Linked DNA regions of Homo sapiens: regions 1 and 3 are each linked to region 2. Evidence: fine-mapped expression QTL. A gene starts in region 2. Each other region holds a variant in brackets. All regions are shown on one strand. Distances are from middle to middle.

Evidence for each region. PIP is the estimated chance that this variant, and not a neighbour inherited with it, causes the effect.
Region 1: its variant is fine-mapped to the expression of PKD1L1 in cerebral cortex (GTEx, PIP 0.96).
Region 3: its variant is fine-mapped to the expression of PKD1L1 in lung (TOPMed, PIP above 0.99).

Annotation. Positions count from the first base shown.
Region 1 is chr7:47,977,037-47,982,739 of GRCh38, forward strand. HUS1 (HUS1 checkpoint clamp component) reads right to left here and starts at 2,579. Exons shown (of 8, transcript NM_004507.4): 1 at 2,432-2,579; 2 at 1,653-1,780; 3 at 1,381-1,557. The coding sequence starts at 2,483. LOC105375270 (a long non-coding RNA gene) reads left to right here and starts at 5,406. Exons shown (of 3, transcript XR_927251.3): 1 at 5,406-5,703. RefSeq lists silencers at 2,100-2,149, 2,230-2,289 and an enhancer at 2,360-2,649. The variant A/AAG (reference allele first, on the strand shown) is at 3,203.
Region 2 is chr7:47,945,300-47,951,002 of GRCh38, forward strand. PKD1L1 (polycystin 1 like 1, transient receptor potential channel interacting) reads right to left here and starts at 3,167. Exons shown (of 57, transcript NM_138295.5): 1 at 3,098-3,167. The coding sequence starts at 3,141.
Region 3 is chr7:47,870,846-47,876,548 of GRCh38, forward strand. PKD1L1 (polycystin 1 like 1, transient receptor potential channel interacting) reads right to left here. Exons shown (of 57, transcript NM_138295.5): 23 at 5,252-5,372; 24 at 3,054-3,165. Among named protein-coding and RNA genes, the nearest start is that of PKD1L1, 75 kb to the right of the region's middle. The variant T/C (reference allele first, on the strand shown) is at 3,136.

The DNA.
Region 1 (5,703 bases), 32 kb after region 2:
GAAGTGTGGTGATAAGACAAAAAGGTCCTTAGTGTTCCAGTGGAACAAACAGATCAATAAAAATGCAAACAAATGAAACTGTATGAAATGCTCATTATAGCCGTGAGAAAGCACTCCACAGAGACCAGGGTGAGTGTGGGGGAGTTTCCTTAGACTGAGGAGGTGACATTTCAGATACCACCAAAAGCAGGAGAAGCAGCAGCCATGGGAAGACAAGAACAAGGGGACAGGGTTTCAGGCTGGGGAAACAGCACATGTAAAGCCGTGAGGCAGAAAGAAGCAAGCCTGCTATGTTGACGCAACCAAGAGAAGGCCATTCTTTGGGCATAGGACACTCAGAGTGCTGCAGTTTCTAACAGTTAAAAGGCAAACTATATTTATTTCTAGGGGCTCCTATGAGACTCACAGACCAAAATATCTTGCACTTTTGGACAAAAAGTATTATACGTTACTATCTTGCTTTTCCTTAAGCAATAGAAAAAACATACCAAACTTATACTGTGACATGAAATGCCCTAATTAGCTCTGAGAACTGCCTGACTGCAAAGAGTTGAGAGTTATGAAGAAAAGCTGGGCTGGGCGCCGTGGCTCATGCCTACAATCGCAGCACTTTGGGAGGCCGAGGTAGGTGGATCACTTGACGTCAGGAGTTCGAGACCAGCCTGGCCAATATGGTGATACCCCGACTCTACTAAAAAAATACAAAAATTAGCTGGGTGTGGTGGTGGGTGCCTGTAATTCCAGCTACTCAGGAGGCTGAGGCATGAGAATCGCTTGAACCCGGGAGATGGAGGTTGCAGTGAGCCGAGATCGCGCCACTGCACTCCAGCCTGGGTGATAGAGAGACTCCGTCTCAAAAAAAAGGAAATACGAACCTCATTCTATGAGTAGGAAGAGCAACTCTGGATTGTATGTATGCGCATGAGTTTGTGTATTTGTGTGTTTGGAGGACAGCTGTGCACTAAATTCATCTGGCAGTAGCATATAAAACATACGTGTACTGAAGAACGAGGGGCCATTTAAAGGTTATTATAGCAGATGAGGCAGGGTGGGAGTGGGGAGAAAACATGTCAAAGGTGAAAATGGATAGAGAAACCATGATTTCTAGACAAGGTGACAATACCACTACAAGAAACAGAGAGGCTGGAAGTTTCACGGCTTGGAAAAAGCAGCATTCTAGCTGAATGCATATGATAACAACACAATTTTAAAATGAGGAGGAACTGACTCTAATGCAAAATATAGTTATGGACCAGATCTTTAAATTTAAATAAACCAAACAGCTTTCAACAGTATTTATTGTTAAAAAGGCTAGGCTAACTATGTCTATTCCTTCGAGGCCAAGACTTCTGTGTTAGAAACCCTGACTCTCCTACTCACCAGCTCCACGGAGACCGTGAGGCAGGGAAAGTGTTTATTAGTCAGTTTGATTTTCAAAGCCCTGGCATTCTGGGCAGTCTTCAAGGCTCGAGATAAGTTTTCCGATGTTAGCTCTAAATAAATCTCATTGTTTTCTGCAGAGACACCCTCCATTTGAAATTCGTTGAAGAAGTTCTCCTAAGGGAAAAAAAATGAGGGATGAGGGAGGGTATATGTGATCTTTCCAGTGACAATCTGCAGAGTGTGCAGGCCTCTCAGAAGCTTTTGCTCACCTGTTCCAGCTCACACCACATGCTCACTCCTCCATTAGCCAGCTTGTCACAAAGGATGAAGTTAAGCTTATCAGGGCTGATGCGGAGGGTGCAGGTTTTGGCAAGCTTGGCTATCATGTTACTGATTCCTAAAGCAGGGGTTAAAATAAGGAATTACTAAAATGCACATTATGTATCCTAGAGACCAACTTATTTTGCAGAATTTCTTGTTCATCAACTTCTCGGTGGAAAAATAACCACTTAACGTTGGTATCACACTGGAAAGTACTTTAATACCCCTGATGTCACGCAATTCTCCCAACAAACTAGGGGAGATGTACAGCACACATCATCAGTGTTCAAATAAGAAAACAGGCACCTACCAGTCATTCATTCATTCAACATGGATTTATTGACTACTAGGTACTGCAATACACAGTTAAATGCAAGGTTAGGCACTGTCAGGGTGGAGGGACGAATGGGGCCTTGAAGGTATGTCAATGCCTGATAAAGCCGTCTATGGGAGCAGTGGCCGCTTTTTTTTAAAGCCACGTGATCGGAATCAAGTTTCAGAAACGTCCCTTGAAAGCCGCCTTCATCCCCACAAGTGCCCTCCGACCCGCCCCGCGCCCTCCCGGCCCCACCCTCCCGCGGCCTACACCAGCACCCCCATCCCGGCCCCATCCTCCCGCGGCCCCTTCCGGCGCCCATCCCCGTTCTGATCCTCCTGCGCGGTCCCCACCGCGCGCTCACTGCTTCCTTCCGTTCCTCCCTCGCTCCTCTCCGGCCTCCCTGCTCACGTGTGAAGTGGTTCAGACAGGCCCCGTCCACGATCTTGGCCCGAAACTTCATGGCCGCGGATGGCGCAGCCGCGGCGGGCCTCTGTGGGTAACAGAAAAGCGTCGCGCCCTGAGTGTCCCCGCCCGGAAACACGGCAGCGCGAACAGTGGTTCCGCCCGGCTCGGGCTACGCGACTCTTACCAGGGTTATCTCCGGGCCACGCCCCGGAGGAGGTGGGGCTAGGGGGTCACGCCCTAGAGGAGGTGGGGTCACGGGTCAAGGATCACAGGTCACGCCCCGGGGGAGGTGGGGGTCCCAGTCTCCGGGTATGCCTCCGCGCTGCCGGGTAATGGTGGGATCTACTTTTAGTGAGGCGGAGGCTTCAAGCCCCAGATTCGGGGAGGTTGTTCTGAGAATTCACGTTTTGAAAGAATTTTGTGACACCTATTTCAAGTGTTATTTTAAAATATCCAAATAAAATTAATCGTTTATAAAGGTTAAACAATATTATCTTAAATATACCTAAGGTAGAGCAGCTTTAAACCCTCCAGCCTCAGATGACGGTACTGGTACTTTGGTATTGAAGCATCTTGGTGGATTAAGGTTCTGAAAATTGTTTCAAATGACTTCTAAAAAAATTGAACATATTACTGGCTAGTTGGTAAAGTCGGGAAGCTTAAAGAACACTGACGTTAAGTGATAATTCTGCAGTTTGCCTCAAGACGAACTTTATTACATCCGATAAAATTCTTATTAGCATAAATAATGTCATTAGGATTTTTTTTAAAGGA[A/AAG]AAATTTTAAAGGGGGAAATGAAGCAACAATTGTATCTAATTTGGTTTTTCAAAGACTAAAGATTATCTGTGTTAACAATTGTTATTTTTAATGTCCTTTGCAAATAGACTAGAACCTTGTCTTTAACTTGACACATAGAATCAAGATAATGATAATGCAGATGATGATGATGATGATTTTGAGACGGAGTCTGGCTCTGTCGCCCTGGCTGGAGTGCAATGGCGTGATCTTGGCCCACTGCAACCTCCACCTCCCGGGTTCGAGGGATTCTCCTGCCTCAGCTTCCCAAGTAGTTGGGATTACAGGCACAAGCTACCATGCCCGGCTAATTTTTGTATTATTAGTAGAGACGGGGTTTCGCCATGTTGGCCAGGCTGGTCTCGAACTCCTGACCTCAGGTGATCTGCCCACCTCGGCCTCCCAAAGTGCTGGGATTATAGGCGTGAGCCACCGCGCCAGGCCCAGATAATTTTCAAAGACACATGCACACATATGTTTATTGTGGCACTATTCACAATAGCAAAGACTTGGAACCATCCCAAATGTCCATCAATAATAGACTGGATAAGGAAAATGTGGCACATATACACCATGGAATACTATGCAGCCATAAAAAAGGATGAGTTCATGTCCTTTGCAGGGACATGGATGAAGCTGGAAACCATCATTCTCAGCAAAATATCACAAGGACAGAAAACCAAACACCGCATGTTCTCACTCATAAGTGGGAGTTGAACAATGAGAACACATGGACACAGGGAGGGGAATATCACACACTGGGGCCTGTTGGGGGGTGGAGGCCTGGGGGAGGGATAGCGTTAGGAGAAATACCTAATGTAAATGATGAGTTGATGGGTGCAGCACACCAACATGGCACATGCATACCTATGTAACAAATCTGCACGTTGTGCACATGTACCCTAGAACTTAAAGTGTAATAATAATAAAAAGGTGCAAAATACAAAAATTGCAGTTTTTGCCTATTTTAAGACTATAACATGAAGCAAAATTCTAATCTTCATTGTCATATGCGAGTGTTTGCCAAACCAAACTTAATAGATCACTTTCAAAGTTATGCCAACAGGCAGGGCAGGATGGCTCTCTCCTGTAATCCCAGCATTCTGGGAGGCCGAGGCGGGTGGATCATCTGAGGTCAGGAGTCTGAGATCAGCCTGGCCAACATGATGAAACCCCGTCTCTACTAAAAATACAAAAATTAGCCCGGCGTGATAGCTTGTGCCTGTAATCCCAACTACTCAGGAATCTGAGGCAGGAGAATCACTTGAACCCAGGAGGCGGAGATTTCAGTGAACAGAGGTCTGCCACTGCACTCCAGCCTGGGCGACAGAGCGAGACTCCGTCTCAAAAAAAAAAAAAAATGTTGGCATAACTCTTTTTTTTTTTGGAGACGGAATCTCGCTCTGTCGCCCAGGCTGGAGTGCAGTGGCGCAATCTCGGCTCACTGCAAGTTCCGCCTCCCGGGTTCACGCCATTCTCCTACCTCAGCCTCCCGAGTAGCTGGGACTACAGGCGCCCGCCACCACGCCCGGCTAATTTTTTGTATTTTTAGTAGAGACGGGGTTTCACCGTGTTAGCCAGGATGGTCTCGATCTCCTGACCTCGTGATCCGCCCGCCTCGGCCTCCCAAAGTGCTGGGATTACAAGCGTGAGCCACTGAGCCCGGCCATGCCAACATTTTTTATTTGCCCCATATGATCTGCAGGAAAAAGCCTGTTTTTTAATTTCCTCATGAATGAGTTTTGAAGAGTTGAGCATCACATTAAATAAAGTGGCTGCTAGTAGATAAATGAATATAATTAAAGAATGTATCTAAATAAACTTTGTAAACAATGTTTTGTAACATCTTGATCTTTAGTGTAAATTGCTTAATTTTATGTCATAAAAACTGATAAAGCAATTTTTTAAACTTCCTAAGAAGATGTGATATGATACATTCTGCATGGACAAAAGCCCAAATAATATAGGAATTTGACTCAAGAAATAGAAAATAAAGCTGCAATTATCTTTTCTTGGAAGAAGAAAGGAATCTTTTATGTGCTCTTGCAATTTTCTTAAACAGGTTTAGCAAATTAATTCATTAACTTCAGAATTGACAATTAAGTATATTGACACTACTTCTCTACTTTCCAAATGATTTTGAGGCAAGGAATGTGATCTCTAGAGATTTCTAGAAGCCCCATGTACCACTGAGTTTTCTAATGCAATGTATATTCATGTTCTCATCTAGCTACAGTAAATTGCCTTCTGACTTAAGAACTGCCAAATGTCAGGGATTAGTAATTCAGTCACACAATGATTTGGGAAACAGTGTTCACGCTGTTCATTAAGTTTGTTTAGTGGGGAGGTAAATGCCTTAATCTTGTCTTAGAAACTGAAATAAACAGTGGTGCAAATAAAATGTCATTCAGGATGCATATAGTTGGAAGTAAGGGAAATAACCTCTCTACAGCTGCAGATGGTAAACTCTGTCTAGGTAAGT
Region 2 (5,703 bases):
ATCTACTTTATCTTAAGCAAGGTTTCTACAAAGATAAAACTGGATAGTTTCACCCAATTTTTACAAGCCTGGTTCTTGATGCCCAAGAAGCCGCCACCAGAGGGCAGACGAGGACAATATTTATAGTTGAGGAAAGTGTGCAGGGAGGTGAAAAGCTGTTATTTTGAAGATGAAGATGGTCACTAGGTCAAAGGCCTCAAACTGTTGAATAATTCCAAGGATTTCCTTGCCTACTCTCAACTATGCTTGTCTTCCAAAGGCCAGAGAAATGAAAAAATAAAAAATAACAATAATAGAAAAGGGGACAACTTTGGAATCATACAGACCAGACCAGATCAGACTTAGAGGATTTCTGCAATGATCTAGCGGGCAAATAAAATTAAGGAAAGGACGAACCTAACCTCTGTCCACCACGTGCGCCCCACAGTCCACAGCTGTGAGACTGCCCACCACTCTGGGCCCACACAAGGTTAGATAGCCCTGGCACCCACCAAGTTCCGAGACCCTCCCAGACACCCCCACAACAGGATAACTTCCAAGTGCTACACACAGAAAACACCAGCCCTGGTTCCTGGGACATAGTTGGCCCTTGAGAAGTAATTTTCTGTCTCAGAAGGTGAGAAACACATCCCCAACAGGTGTGTCCTCCACTCACAGAGGCGCCAAGGATAGTGCTGCAAAGCTAATTTTCCTTGAGATTTCAGAGGTCTTTTCAAATAAAAAAAATGGAAGGGGGAGATAATTTAAATACAAGGGAGGCTCTTTTTCCTGGTGTTGTGAGGAGGCAGGTCCCCAGGCCCTGGCACAGAATCAGCACCATTTTCACAGAGGTACCTGGCTTCCTCTTAGTTAACTGTGACTGTCGGGGAACAGGATGATACTGATGGCTCAAACACAGTCTCTGAGGCATCATGTGCCTCAAGGGAACTAGTCGAGCCATTTGTTTGAATTACATGACAGATCTCTTAGAATCCCTTAAGAGTGAGTGTTTTTCGGGGCCTGTCAGGGGCTGGGGGGCAAGGGGAGGGAGAGCATTAGGACAAATACCTACCACACAAACACACACCACACACTCACACCACACCACACTCACACCACACAAACACACCACACAGCATCACACACAATATACACACACCACACAGCACATACCCACCCACCACACACACATCGCACACACCACACACCACGCACCACACAAACACACCATACACACAAACACCACACACACACCAACACATTACACACACATCACACAGCACACACCATGTATCACACACACACCATACCCCACTCATACCATACCACACATACACCACACACTACACACAGACCACACACCACACCACCCACACACATGTCCTATACCACACACACACACACAGACACTACAGGCCTAACTCCATGAAATGAGGGCTACAGGAGAGTCAAGAAACCTCTTCTGTTTCTATGAACAAGATCAGTCACTGTCTTGCTTTAGGTGACTCAGGAAACCCCAAAAGGCTATGACTTCAGAAATGGGGCCTCGACACCAATTACAATGGCTAGTGCGTGCATGAACTAGTTGGTCTGCAAGTACAAGATGTATAAATATACAGGGGAAAAAACATCAAGTCAGCGACTTCCGCTCCTCAGCTTTTCTTTCCTTTCTAAGGGCAAAGGGGTAATTCCTTGCAATTCCCTGACTGATAAGAGTGAAGGTCAAATTGGGCCAACATCAAGGCTCTGGGAGTCTGCAGGAGCATGGGCATTTGGAATAAAAGAAACATGAGGTAACCAGAAAAAATAAGGGAAAAAATTGTAGCCAAAATCAGACAATGCTTGGCAGCAGTGAGTGACATAAGGCAAAGAAATTTCCAAGCATGAATGTGACCAACCCCGTCAACACGTGCAGCCTCATTTTCTCATCCTGGTTTGCTTTGGGTTTCTTTGATAAAATGATGGTGATGGCACAAAGACAGTAAGCTAACAAAGGCAGAAATGCTGACAGCAAGCATTCATCAAGGATACTGATTTTTATAACGACCCTCTGGAGTTTACAGATGTGACAACAGGGGTACTCAGATTTTCAGGATGAGAAATCTGGGGGTGAGGAGGTAAAGTGACCTGCAGTGGCGGGGTACCCCACTGGGCAAGATCTGCAGGCACAGGCTCCCATCATGCCAGGCCAGGGGACAGCGGTGACCCACCTGGGTCCTTACCACATCCCACAGGCAGGTCACCTTGCTGGCCTCACGCCCAGGAAAGGGGGCATGGAGGTTTGCACCATGTCACACTGCCATGAGACAGTCAACAGCAGAGCACACAGGCTGCCCAGCCTCAACAACACATGGGTGCTGGCGCGCACAGAGCATGGGGAAGAGGGTTTAGAAATAAGACCCATGGAGGCTGGGTGCGGTGGCTTATGCCTGTAATCCCAGTACTTTGGGAGGCCAAGGCGGGCAGATCACAAGGTCAGGAGATCGAGACCATCCTGGCTAACACAGTGAAACCCCGTCTCTACTAAAAATACAAAAAATTAGTCGGGCGTGGTGGTGGGCGCCTGTGGTCCCAGCTACTTGGGAGGCTGAGGCAGGATAAATGGCATGAACCCAGGAGGCAGAGCTTGCAGTGAGCCAAGATCGCACCTCTGCACTCGAGCCTGGGCAACAGAGAGAGACTCCGTCTCAAAAAAAAAGAAATAAGACCCCTGGGCCAAGACCCCATGATCTCTTCCTGTGCCAGGTTTCTCCTGGTCTCCATGCAAGGGACCTAGCAGACAAGCAGATAGCTTAACTTTGTCTACTACCAGGCAGCAGAAAGTCCTCGAACTTGGAAGGTATCCTGCATTTGCAGGAAGAGCAATCAGCACTTCTCATGGCTGAAGGCATCCGCTTGGAGGAGTCTTCTCAAAAGCCTTCAGGAAAAAACTCCATTCTCAACACCAACTCCAACCTCTGAACTGACCCCGCCGGCCAAATGCACCCTCCTGGTACAGGGCCTCCACTCGTGCCAGAGTGAGCCCACATCCTAGAGGTGATGACTTTTGAAAGAAAATTTCTGAATGCATACTTTAAAATCAAGCTTACCAAACCCTCTGAGAACAGTGATAACTCACCTTTCCTGGTCATCAGAAATGTTCTGGGCTGCCTCCTCGGCCATGTCCTGTGCAAGCTGGTCACAAGTATGACAGTCAGCAGACCAGCTTCTTCCTACATCCTCTGGAAGACAAAGAAATAGAGCTTAATGCTTCCAGCTTCTGTACTTGTGACCTCTTATCAGGACACACATCAAACACAGAGGGAAAAATCCAAACTCCAGTAACATTTTCCCAAGCAGAAACAGCTTTTGTTTTCCTAACACTGTCAGACAAATTCCTTCCTAAGAAGTGTGCTTTTGACAGACGTGGTGGCTCATGTCTGTAATCCCAGCAATTTGGGAGGCCAAGGTGGGTGGATCACTTGAGGCCAGAAGTTTGAGACCAGCCTGGCCAATATGGTGAAACCCCGTCTCTACTAAAAATACAAAAATAGCCAAGTGTGGTGGCACACATCTGTAATCCCAGTTACCCAGGAGGCTCAGGCGAGAGAATTGCTTGAACCTAGGAGGTGGAGGTTGCAGTGAGACGAGATTGCACCACTGTGCAATAGAGTGAGACTCTGCCTCAAAAACAAAATGAAACAAAACAAAACAAAACAAAAGTGTGTTTTAGGTAGGGATCTTTGTGGCTGCCTGAAACAGATCACTACTCAAGGGAGAGACTGTACATGGAAGCTGAGAGAAGTCTGAGAATAAAAAGCTGTAACTGTTGGCTGGGCGCGGTGGCTCACGCCTATAATCCCAACACTTTGGGAGGTCGAGGTGGGCGGATCACGAGGTCAGGAGCTCGAGACCAGCCTGGCCAGCATAGTGAAACCCCGTCTCTACTAAAAATACAAAAATTAGCCAGGCATGGTGGCACGCACCTGTAGTCCCAGCTACTCGGGAGGCTGAGGCAGGAGAATTGCTCGAAACCGAGAGGCGGAGGTTGCAGTGAGCCGAGATCGTGCCACCACACTCCAGCCTGGGCAACAGAGCGAGGCTCTGTCTCAAAAAAAAAAAAAAAAAAAAAAAGCTGTAACTGTCCACAACTGCACTGGGGAACAGGATACCTTCCACAAGAGCAGAAGAGCATTCCTAAGGAAGGCTGGCAAGGCACACACTAGGCGCACTCTGTCTTACGGCAGAACCTAGGAATGATCTGGTTCCGAACCTCCTGCACCTCTCCTTGTTTGCAACTGGCGGGTCAGACTGAGTTCTCTCCATTACGAAACATTTTCTCTTATATTTTTAAAGCACTTGTTAGTTGTCTTAGTTCTTTATACCAACATTTAAACCTTCAGAGATTTTAGAAAACTTAATGTTTTACTCAGAACACTAGATATTTTTTCTCTCCACTCTGAAGAGAGTGATACCAAGAAGAGTGGGAACGTTTTCAGGCACAAGCTCTTTCTCAGATGGGAACACAGACCCCTTGAACAATGATGAACCAAGCTACGGGTGTCCGGCCTTGGATCCTGTGTTTTCTGGAACTTTGCTGCCAATGAGGTGAGTAACCAGAGCCCTGTGGTGGGTTAAGGGGCCTGCTGTTGACCTAACACACCTGTCTCCTGGGGCCTGCTGCCACCTCTGCTCTTCTCACACTGCCTTGTCAGTGCCTCTGGCTTTGTCCCCACTGTGCTTGTTGTGAGTAAATCTCAGATTTGGGGGAAATGCATACTTTCCAATTTCATTAGCAATACACTTTCAAATGCGCCTGTGACCAAGAAAAGGATAAACTGCAAACTGCAGTTTGTAAACGAACAAAATCCCTTCTTTCTGAAGCCCCTGTGATTTGCTCTGACACCTTCCTGTCAAATCTAAACAGAGTCCACTGGGTAAAGACACCTGTGCAACCCTGCCTGCTGGGCTGGCATCCATACCCACACGCACACCTGGATGCTCTGACCTTGCTGCTGCCTGTTCCTTCCTTGTGGGGCTGGACATCCTGAGAACAGGGCCTACATTTAAAGTTTGTGATGTTTTTGAAGCCAGCAGTGCTAACCAAAGATGCCAGGAAATGAGGAGGAGCAAAGAAAGTGACATAATTGAGGGAAGAAATATGCCTGCACTGCCCTACGTGGGAGGCACTCTCATAGCCACTCTCATAGCCACTCTCAGCTACTGGAGCTTAAGTTACTTACAATTAAATAGAATTAAGAATTAGCTGGAGAAACCCCGTCTCTACTAAAAATACAAAAAAATTAGCCAGGTGTGGTGATGCACGCCTGTAATCCCAGCTATCCAGGAGGCTGAGGCAGGAGAATCGCTTGAACCGGGGAGGCAGAGGTTGTGGTGAGCCAACTTCGTGCCATTGCACTCCAGCCTGGGCAATGAGCGAAACTCTTGTCTCAAAAAAAAAAAAAGAATTAGCTTTAGCTTCTCCATCATTAGCCATATTTCAAGGGCTCAGTAGCCAAGATACAAACTATACAATGTTTCCATCATTGCAGAACACCCTCGGGGCCAGCGCTGGGCTGGGCAGCCTCGCCTTTTTCCGGGCAGTGCGGCCAGCATTGTTTCCTCAGAGCAGCTGCATCCAGACAAGGGAGGGGTTCCCAGTTCATCTACATTCTTGGGCCATACTCCTCCACCTGGGGTTTGCCGAGCACTGCACTGGTACAACAGGGAGCACAACACAGAACC
Region 3 (5,703 bases), 74 kb before region 2:
GCCTATAATCCCAGCTACTTGGGAGGCGGAGGTGGAAGGATGGCTTGAGCCTAGGAGGTCAAGGCTGCAGTGAGCCATGATCATGCCACTGTACTCCAACCTAGACAACAGATGGAAACCTTGTCTCAAAAAAAAAAAGAAAAAAAAAAAAAAAGGAATACTTCCAAATTGATTGGGGCCAGTATTATTCTGATACCAAAACCAGACAAAGACAACACAGGAAAAGAAAGAAAACTACAGGCCAATACCTCTTATGAACATGGACACAAAAATCCTCAGAAAAGTACTAGAAATCAAATCCAGCACACAGAAAAAGATGTATACATCATGACCAAATGGAATTTATTCCCAGACTGTAAGAGTGATTCAACATCTGAAAATCAATCAATTTTATATAACTTGTATCTTAGTTTGTGCTATTATAATAAAATACCTGAGACTGGGTAATATATAAAGAACAGAAATTTATTTTCACAGTTTTGGAGTCTGGGAAGTCTAAGATCAAGACACTAATAGGCTCAGTGTCTGGTGAGGCTGCTCTCTGCTTCCAAGGTGGCACCTGTTGCTGCCTCCTCCAGAGGGGAAGAAGGCTGTGACCTCACATGACAGAAGGGACAGAACGACCAAAGAGGGCCTATCTAGTTCCCTCCAGCCATTTTATAAGGTGACTAATTTCATTTATGAGAGCAGAACCCTTATGGCCTAATCACCTCCTACAGACACCACCTCTTAACTACTGTTGCACTGGGGATAGTTTGAACAGGAATTTTAGAGAGGACACAAACATCCAAAACGTAACAAATTAATGGACTAAGGGACAAAAAACATATAATTGTCTCCATAGACCTAGGAAAAGCATTTAACAAAATCCAATACGTTTTTATAATGAAATACACACACAACAAACTAGGAATAGAAGAGAACATCCTCAATCTGATAACGGTTGTCTGTGAACGACCTCTAGCTAATATTAATATGAAGTGGTGAAAGACTGAATGCTTCCTCCTTAAAACTGAGAAGAAGACCAGGATTTCCACGCTTGCCACTTCTGTTCAGCGTTGAATGGAGGTTCTAGTCAAGAGAATTAGGCAAGAAATAGAAATGGAAGGCATCCAGATTAGAAAGAAAGAAGCAAAGCTATCTCTAGTGACAGATGACATGATCTTATATAGAGAAAATCTCAAGGAATTCGGTAAAAAACTATTAATACTAACAAACATGTTCAGCAGGGTTATAGGATACAAGATACTCCCCAAACTGATGTACAGACTTGACAAATCCCTATGAAAATCCCAGTTAGCTTTTGTTTTGTTTTGTTTTTCTACCCCCTGCAGCAGGAGTCTGGAGCCCCAGTCTGCCCCAGCCAGAGCAAGGCTGGAGAGGCTGGCCGGCACCAAAGCCATTGTCCCATGCCTGTGCTGCTTTGTTTTTGCAGAAATCGACAGGCTGATTCTAAAACTCATATGGAAATATGAGAGACCTGAAAGACCCAACCTTCTAAAAAGAACAAAGTTAGTGGGCTCAGGTTTTTCAGTTTCAAAATTTACTACTAAACTATAATAATCAAGGCAGCATAGTACTGGTATGAGAAGAGACATTCAGACTAATGGAATAGAATTGAGAATCAAGAAACAAACGTTTTAATTAGGTTATCCATTATAAAAATACAGATAACCTACATAAAAATGGGTAAAGTACTAAGCAGACATTTCTTCAAGGAAGATATACAAAGCATATGAAAAGATGCTCAACCTCATCAATTATTAGAGAAACGCAAGTCCAAACCTTAATGGGATACCACTTCATACTAACTAGAACAGCTGTGAACAAAAAGACAATAACCAGTGTTGGTTAGGATATCAAGAAACCAGAACTCTCATACCTCGTTAGTGGGAATACAAAATGGTGCAGCCACTACGGAAAATAGTTTGGTAGTTACCATAGGACACTGTTTCCATTCCTAGTTACCTACCCAAGGAAAATGAAACCACACACTCACACAAAAACTTGCACATAAATGTTCATAGCAGTGTGATTCATTATAGCCAAAAAGTGAAAACAACCCACACATCCATCAACTAATTAATGAATAAATAAAATATGATATGTTCATACAATAAAATATTATTCAGCAACAAAAAAGAATGAAGTACTAATATATTTTGCTACATAGATGAAACTCAAAAACATTCACATGCTCAGTGAAAAGACAGTTACTTAAGATCATATGTTATATTATCTCATTTATATGAAATTTTCAGAATCAGCAAACCTGTAGATATTAAATAGATTTGTGGTTGTCCGGGGCCGGTGGGAGGAAGCTGGGTGGTGGGTAAAGGGAGTGACTGCTAATAAGTCAAGGTTTTCACGGGATGATGAAAAATTGTCTAAAACTAGCTTATGGTGAAGGCTGTATAATTCAATAAATTATTAAAACCAAGGAGTTGCATACTTTAAATGGATGAACATGTGGAATGTAAATGATATCTTTAAAAACTGTTTTTAAAAAAGAAGAAAGTGAGGCTGGGCGCGGTGGCTCACACCTGTAATCCCAGCATTTTGGGAGACCGAGGCGGGTGGATCACGAAGTCAGGAGTTCGAGACCAGCCTGACCAACATGGTGAAACCCCATCTCTACTAAAAATACAAAAATTAGTCAGGCTTGGTGGCGCACACCTGTAATCCCAGCTACTCAGGAGGCTGAGGCAGGAGAATCACTTGAACCCGGGAGGTGGAGGTTGCAAGTGAGCCGAGATTGTGCCACTGCACTCTCCAGCCTGGGTGACAGGCGGAGACTCTGTCTCAAAAAAAAAAAAAAAAAAAAAAGAAGGAGAAGAAAGTAGCTTTATAGGCTCTGAAGCACCTGCAAGAATGCCATGCAAATATGAGTTAGCAGGATTGCAGTGATAGCACCCGGACTTTTTTATTTGCTCCATCTTAAGAAGATGAGTTCCTGACATGTTTTTGACGCTTGTTAACAACTTGGGGGAGAGCCAACTCTGGAAGAAATACAAATAATGGCTAGGATGTCTGTGTGGCATTGTGTTACTCACAGGTCCTCGCCCAGACAGTCATTTCCATGGTAGCGGGGCAGCACAGTCACCACCACAGTGCACGGCTGGACCTTGGAGCCTT[T/C]GCCATCTGTGATTTCAGTGGAAACCATGACTGTGAGGGAACATGTCAGAAGAGGGTCATCTTGGACATGTGGGTTACAGAGATGCTTCTTCACACACAGACAGCATCTTCTGGATGACTAAAACTGTGACAAGTGCTGACAAAGGGGCCAGGCTCCGAGCCACAGGGAGCCCAGGGAGTGAAATACAAACTCGGCAATGGACTGTCAAGGCTTGGGGTTATAGTTTGACCAGTTCCTACATGATATATAGAAATTTAACAGGCCTAGAAAAAAGGTGAAGAATTCTGACAGAGGGGACTTTTTAAAAGACATAAGACCTATTTGGGGGACCCAGGAATTCCTTCATGTAACAGGGGTGCAGGGCTGTGGTGAGGGGACCTGCAGATCAGGCTCAGAGTGCAGGTGATGGCCAGATGCTAAGGGCCACAGGCACCGTCATAGGAACCACATAGAAAGATCGACGCCCAGGTGTGCCCTATGTATCTTTATAACAACATTTTCAACCTGAAACTCAGTGCCAAGGATTGGGGACTTAATTTTGGAGGTTGACACTTCTCAAGATGTGGTCTATGGACACTTGCAGCCCAAGCGCCAGGCATCTCGTCTACAAGCAAATTCCGTGCTCCATCTTCTCCCCACAATCCTGAGTCAGTGGATACTAGGTGGGCTCTGGAGGCAGCAATTTTAACAAATACCCTTAACAGATAAGGTTGGTCCTATGCACGGATATAGAAAATCCCAAAGGAGCAGTTTTTAGGCAAGACTCCACTTATTTTGACAAGCTGAGTCTGCGCCACACTCACTCATGCAAAAGATGGGACAAGAAAAGGTATGTATTAAGTATTTACTATATTGTATTTATTTTGCTTATGTTCGCCCCCTTACAAATCTTGAGTTCAGGTATTCATAGGAATTGGCTGTACTGATAGTGACAATTACAAACAAATTGTGGTTGTGAATGATTTGAGTAACATCACTAACCCTGACACTGCTCTGGGACTGTGACCTGAAATTTGGTCTGTAAATTTATGTTAAGAAATCTTTACTTCCAACACAGAGCTGAGGCCCTGGCCCAAGGTCCTTCTATTGGAACATTTGCCCAGCCTAAGTCTCACATAACCCCGTACGCAGCTTGACTTCAAGAAAACTCAAGATCAAACGGAGTACAAAGTCACTGTGATACAAAGCAGAGCATGATTATGAAGATCTCAAAATGCCCTGCTCAGAAGTTTTGCTCAATATAATTGATTTGTATCTAGAAGAAGGTACAAGTGTTTCTAACTGAAGGTGACAGGCAAAGTTTCATGAAGAAGAAGGAACTTCAGCTTGGCTTAAAGGAGAGGTGAAACTTAAATAAATCAAGTGAATGAACTAGTTCAGACTTCAGGCTCTAATAATCTTACCAGTCCAAATTAAAGAAACTTCTAGATCAGTGACTCTCAACCTTCCCTGCACATCAGAATCTTCCAGGCATTTAAAAAATAAAACAGAAACTTAAAAAGTCACCAACCCCCAAGATTTTTATTTAACCAGCCTGGGTTTGCACATGTCAAGATACCTTCCTAAATGGCTGCATGTCTCTTATGCTCAGTTGAAGCCAGTTCCAAGGGACTGGTTTAGAAGTAACCACAACCTCAGGAACAGGGTCAGAGCAGAAAGTTGTAAACACTGTGGGATTCATTTTGTTTTGAGGTTATGTTACTAACATGCTAACTCACATTCATTTACCCCACATTTTGTTCCTTAGGGGGATACCTTGATTTGGTTTCATCTATAATAAATGCAAGATTCACCAGATATGACATATTTCATTAGTAAGTAAGAAATGTCCTGATTTTAAATATTTAATTTATATATGAAAAAACATTCTCTGGCATTTTATCATTTACAGTGTATTTCAGTTAAAATTTAAGATATAAAAAACTGATTTAATTTATTGATATTACTAATGTTCTTTCTGCACTAAAAGGTAGATAATAAACCTAAACTGAAAAGCATTAAACTGATCAAGGTGATTTTATTTTCTAGACACAGTTTAGTTTTTGAAAACCAGGAAAAAAGGTTTAGAACTGTAGGTTGGCACAGCTAGTGACTCCAACTGGCACCATAGCTTACCTTTGTAATTGTCCAAGTGCTCACCAGCTGGCAACACAAAATAATACTGGGTGTCTCTCCCATGGTACAAAGTGTGTTTGGAGGTGTTTCCTATCTGGTAACTAAATTCATAATGGAAGTCCTATGATCCAGTCCAAGGGAGCAAAAATAGTATAAATGAACACACTGTGAATGATATCACAATACATACACACACAGCTGAGCCTTCATTGTACCAAGGACATTCTTTACAGCCAGGAAGAGGGTAAGTGACAGGTAAGCAGCACTCCCAGCTGCCCAGAGCCCTGGGCCCTGCAGGGCTCTCCATTCACCAAGCCCAAAGGGCTCCTCGAACAACACTGAGATTCCCCACCAGTGTCTGTGTCCTCTCCTTGTCCTGGAACCTCCCCACAGTCACAAATCAGACTGTCACAGCCCCCTCAGGGTGAAGGGCCCCAGCTGCCCCTCAGCTT